2 separate regions of the Homo sapiens genome follow, and region 1 is linked to region 2. The links come from fine-mapping of genetic effects on gene expression. A gene starts in region 2. The other region holds a variant in brackets. All regions are shown on one strand. Distances are from middle to middle.

Region 1 (2,923 bases), 590 kb after region 2:
ACTTTTGATTCTGAAAAATTTCAAACCTATAGACAAGTTGGCAACATTCTATCATATTTGCTCTGTCTCCCTCTCTGCAGACACACACATATATACACAAGCATAATATGTACATATGTGAACATGTATACATGTATTTGTTTTTTATTGCTAAACTACTTGAGAGTCAGAGACATAACAGTTTGCTTAGAAGTATTTTAGTGTATTTCTCTTAAGAACACAGGCTTTTTAAAAATATTGCCCTAATATATTTATCACACTCAGGAAATTTAACACTGATATGATTTTGATATGATCTAATGTCCATGCTGTAATCAAATTTCCCCAAATGTCCTAATAATGTCCCTTACAGTTTTTCTATTTTTATTTTTGGATCCAAGCTCCAGTCAAAGTCTTGTGTTACTTTTAGTCATCATGGCTCTTTAGTCTTTAGTCTCCTTTAATCTGGAATAGTTCCCCAGCCTGTTTCTTATTTTCACAAGATTGACATTTTTCTGAGGAGTTCAGATCAGTTGTTTTACAGTGTCCTTCAATGTGTATGTTTCTGATTGTCTCATGATAAGATTCAGATTAAATGTTTCTGGCGGGAGTACCACGTAGTTGATGTGCTCTTTTCAGTGCATCACACTGAGAGGCACATGGTATCAGTTTGTTCCCTTATTGCTGATGTCTGGTTTGACATCATTTAGGTAAATAGTGGTCACAGATTTTTCCATTGTAGCCTTCCTGCTTTGTAATAAATAAGTACTCTGTGAGTAATACTTTGAGACTGTGAAACCCTGTTCCTCAGTAATCTTTCATCCAGCAGCATTAATGTCCATTGATGATTTTTTTAAAAAATGGATTGCTTTTAAAATTTTGTGACCTCTTTGTGCAAGGATGTCATTCAAATTTTAGTTCACATGTTGCCAAAGCTGACACTAGAATTATTTTCAGAAGTTTAATTGGTTGATATTATTTTGTGAATTGTGTGCTTTTCTTGCTGATTTATAAGTACACCTACATCATGATTATTATTTATTACATTTAATGAACCATTGGTTATTAGGTACAAGACATGGTTCTGAAATCCTTATAATTGTATGAACCACAGGTATCTTCCCCCTCCCCTCATTTTATAGGAGAAAATGATGCTTAGATTAATCCTGAGTTTTGTATTTTGCAAATACTTGTCCCAATTTGTTGTACAGTTTTGTGTGTGTATGTGTGTGTGTGTGTGTGTGTGT[T/GTT]TTAAGAGACGAGATCTTGCTTTGTTACCCAGTATTCACAGGTGTGATTATAGCACCCTCCAGCTTCAGCCTTTAACTCCTGGGCTCGAGGTCCTCCCACCTCAGCCTCTGGAGGAGCTGGGACTACAGGCGTGCGCCACTGTGCCCAGCTATTCTTAATCTAGCCTATGTTGCCGAACCAAAGCTTTACATTTTCCATAGTATATCTGTCAGTTTATTCTTTTATAGTTTCTGGCTTTAGTGTCCTATTCAGAAGCATTAACATTTAATTTATTAGGAATGAGGTTTGTTCACTTGCCTTTCAGTAAGTAAGATTGCCAGATTTCACTTAAAATAGCTGTGTGCCAAATATTGTATGATATACTAAACAGTGATATGTAATTTATCTGAAATTTGGCATCTTGCATTGTTATGTGGTAACTTTATCAGTAAGACTTTCCCTGACCACTTAATTTAAAATCACAACCCACATCTCAGTACTGCCTGCTTTTTGTTTTCTCCATAGCACTGCACGTACACTGTATATTTTACTTTTTTGTTTAGTGTCTATATCTCACCACTAGAATGTAAGATCCATGAAGTCAGGCTTTTTATTTTAACTTTTAAATGGAGGCTTAACATACATATAGGAAAATACCCATATGAAACTGTACTGCTTAACGAATTGTCTTAGGAGGGCAAAGATTTTTTTATTCTAAGTTTTTCTCAATGCTTAAAATAGGTGATCAGCAAATATTTGTTGATTGAGTCAATGGTATAACCTATGAGAGAGGCATTCATGTTACTTTTTCCCAAATAGCTAGCCAGAGAATTTATTGATTATATTTTGTTTGGTTATTATTGCTTTGAAAGCGTATTTTTTCTCCCCTCTCCCTACTTTCTCCCTCACGTAATTTTTATTTATTTTATTTATTTATTTTTTGAGACGGAGTCTTGCTCTGTCACCCAGGCTGGAGTGCAATGGCGCAATCTCTGCTCACTGCAACCTCCGCCTCCTGGGTTCAAGCTATTTTCCTGCCTCAGCCTCCCGAGTAGCTGGGATTACAGGCTCATGCCACCATGCCCGGATAATTTTTTGTATTTTTATTAGAGACAGGGTTTCACCATGTTGGCCAGGCTGATCTCCAACTCCTGACCTCGTGATTCACCCACCTCGGTCGCCAAAAGTGCTGGGATTACAGGTGTGAGCCACCGTGCCGGCCTCCCTCAACCTCACATAATTTTTAATGAATATGAATAGCATAATTATTTAACTATTCTCCTACTATTAAACATTTGTTTGTGTTTTGAAGACATTTTTAATTTAAAAATTTACGTATCCTTGTGCATTAAAAATTAGTCCTCATTTCAGATTGTTTTCATAGGATGATTTCCTAAAAGAGGAATTACTAGGTCAAAGGATATGATCCTCTCTAAGCCCCTTCTCGTTTAGACAGAACACTCACTGACAGTCAGTAGACCTCTCTGCTGAAGAAGGCACACACAAGGACTGTTGATATCATGCCCTTGGTTCACTGCTTCTAAGAACAATTTACCACCATCTGCTAGCAGAGTAGGTGGTCATTACTTTGTATCTTCCTTGACATCAGCTCCTTGCAGCATTGTATGATTGAAACATCTTGAATTTGTATTCCAGTTCTCCTTATACCAGCTGCAAGACTATGGACAAGCCATTCAACAGGGTCTTCAGTTTTCTG
Region 2 (2,923 bases):
CGATCTTGGCTCACTGCAACCTCTGCCTCCTGGGTTCAAACTATTCTCCTGCCTCGGCCTCCCAAGTAGCTGGGATTACAGGCACTGCCACCATGCCTGGCTAATTTTGTATTTTTAGTAGAGACAGGGTTTTGTCATGTTGGCCAGGCTGGTCTCAAACTTCTGGCCTCAGGTGATCCACTTGCCTCGGCCTCCCAAAGTGTTGGGATAACAGGCGTGAGCCACTGCGCCGGGCCCATACATATGCATTTTTAAAAACTTATTTATTTATTTCGAGACAGGGTCTCACTCTGTTGCCCAAGCAGGAGTGCAGTGGTGCTATCTCCCAGGCTCAAGCAATCCTCAGCCTCCCGAGTAGCTGGGACTACAGGTGTGTGCCACCACACCCAGATAATTTTTATTATTTTTATTTTTTAAATTTTTTGTAGAGATGGAGTTTCACCGTGTCACCCAGGCTGGATATTTTTGTATTTTTGATAGGCCTGTACAGTTTCCAAAGTTGCAACCTTTTCCCCTCCCTGAGAGTAGGGGCAGCCCCTGCTCTCCCTCTACATCCTCCACAGTCCCGAGGTTTTGGCCTCTGTTTCCTCCGTTTCCTATGCTTGGAACGCCAGTGGCTCTTTTGTTGGTCTGGCTGACTCCTGTTCCTCTTTTAAAAATTTAAGTTTGGCCGGGCGTGGTGGCTCATGCTTGTAATCCCAGCACTTTGGGAGGCCGAGGCGGGCGGATGACCTGAGGTCATGAGTTCGAGACCAGCCTGGCCAACACAGTGCAACCCCGTCTCCACTAAAAATACGAAAATTAGCCGGGTGTGGTGGCATGCGCCTGTAATCCCAGCTACTTGGGAGGCTGAGGCACGAGAATTGCTGGAACTGGGGAGGCGGAGGTTGCAGTGAGCTGAGATCACACCACTGCACTCCACCTGGGCAAAAGGGCAAGACTCGGCCTCAAAAGAAAATAAATAAATAAATAAATAAAGTCAAGGGGGTAACACCTCTTCGTAACTCTCCTGTTGTTTCTCATGCCAGCATCACCATAGCCTTGAGGCTCTGAGGTAGGTCACTTCGTCGAGCTCGTTTCCGTGAGGATAACGTTATCTTGGGTGTCTGTGAGACTGCTGCACTGAGTATAGAGCCCAGGCTCCTGGGTCAGCCGGGTTCGAATCCCCTTTCCTCCGTGAAGATCTGGGTCAGTCACAAGTGCTTCAGTTTCTTCGATTTGACTGAGGGAGGCTTTGACTCCAAAAAATTAACACTTGAGTGTACCCGGCCACAGCTTAGCACATCCAGGGTGTTTCCACCCTTTCTTCGGGATCCTCAGGGCTGGATGGAGCCGGTCCTTCCCGTCTCTCCTTATACTCACGCACTAGCGCTGGCTGGAACAAGTCCTCCAAGTAGAACGAGGAGCGGGTTTCAGCGGCGCTCTAGCCCGCCGAGAGCATACGCCCTCCCCACGCGGGGCCGCTGATTGGCTGAAGGTTGCGCTGGCACGCGCAACTTCCGGGACAGAGGCTGTGGCTGGAAGGAGCTGGGCATCCGGCCTGAGGCGCAGCGGTCGCGTTAGTTCGGCCCAATGGCGGCACCGCTGCTTCACACGCGTTTGCCGGGAGATGCGGCCGCTTCGTCCTCTGCAGTTAAGAAGCTGGGCGCGTCGAGGACTGGGTAAGATTCAGGCCGCTTCCTTCTGCGTATCTGGGACGAAAGCTCAGGACGGCGCTTAGAGGAGCGGATTGAAAGGATGTGGGACAAAGCTCATGGCGTGTGATAGGAGCACGGGGTGGAGGGTCATCTCACGTTCACAGAAATGAGCTCATTCCTCCTAACTGGGTAATAGACATGGGTGGGGCCTGGAAAAGTGACTATGTTCTCTGTTCTGGAGGCCCCCTTTCCCGACTGTGTCTCTTCGTGATTTCCCAGGCCTGGGTACTGCCTTCTGCGCCTTGACCCCTCTTCCTTCCCTCTTCTTCGTCCAAATTTGGAAGGGATTTCCCTGGGCTATGTGGGTTATCAGCCGAACGTCGTCACTCATGGCAAATTGAATATTACATCTTTTTTGTTTGGAATTTGTTTCGACACACGTATTTGTTTCGCAGTCTTTATTTTGCTCCACTTTTAAAATCCCTAACCCCCGTAGCACTCTTGGCGTTTAACTTTCAGAGTCATTAGGATGCTATGTTTTTTCATTAATTTACTACGTGTAAGTGAAGCAAACCTTGTAAAACAATTAGCGTAATATGATTCATAATAATTATCGAGCTCCTGCTTACTGTGTTAAACACTGGGGACAGTGGTTTATCCAAAGACACTAATGTCCCTGCTTTCTACAGAGCTTACAGCATAGGGGGGAAAGGCAGTACATAGGCCAATAAATAAACGAACACGATGATTTCAGTTATACAACAAGGTAATGGGGGAGGGAGAAGGGAGAGAAGGAGCTTTTGAGATTTCTCATTGGGAAGACATCTGTCATTTGAGCTTCCACTTGAATGAAGACAAAAATCTAGGCCGGGCGCGGTTGCTCACGCCTGTAATCCCAGCACTTTGGGAGGCCGAGGCGGGCGGATCATCTGAAGTCAGGAGTTGGAGACCAGCCTGGCCAACGTGCGAAACCTCGTCTCTACTGAAAATACAAAAATCAGCCGGGCATGGTGGCAGGTGCCTGTAATCCCAGCTACTCAGGAGGCTGAGGCAGGATAATTGCTTGAACCCGGGAGATGGAGGTTGCAGTTAAGCCAAGATCACACCACTGCACTCCAGCCTGGGCAGCAGAGCAAGACTCCATCTCAAAAAAAAAAATCCAGCCACGTAGAGATTTGGGAAAAGAGTATTTCCAATAGAGTGAACAGTAAGTGAAATGAAAAACAGCTTGGCTTGTTTGAAGAGCAGAAAAGACGTTATGGCTGTAGTAAAACAAGTTGTTGGAG

Evidence for each region.
Region 1: its variant is fine-mapped to the expression of RRN3 in transverse colon (CEDAR, PIP 0.92).

The regions. Positions count from the first base shown.
Region 1 is chr16:14,503,784-14,506,706 of GRCh38, reverse strand. The region is part of intron 21 of PARN (poly(A)-specific ribonuclease); the gene reads left to right. Among named protein-coding and RNA genes, the nearest start is that of LINC03107, 77 kb to the right of the region's middle. The variant T/GTT (reference allele first, on the strand shown) is at 1,227.
Region 2 is chr16:15,092,883-15,095,805 of GRCh38, reverse strand. It overlaps RRN3 (RNA polymerase I transcription factor RRN3), which reads left to right and starts at 1,534. Exons shown (of 18, transcript NM_018427.5): 1 at 1,534-1,661. The coding sequence starts at 1,573. It overlaps LOC100505915 (a long non-coding RNA gene), which reads right to left and starts at 1,395. Exons shown (of 4, transcript NR_125434.1): 1 at 995-1,395. It also overlaps a transcript of PDXDC1 not described here. RefSeq lists an enhancer at 1,260-1,554.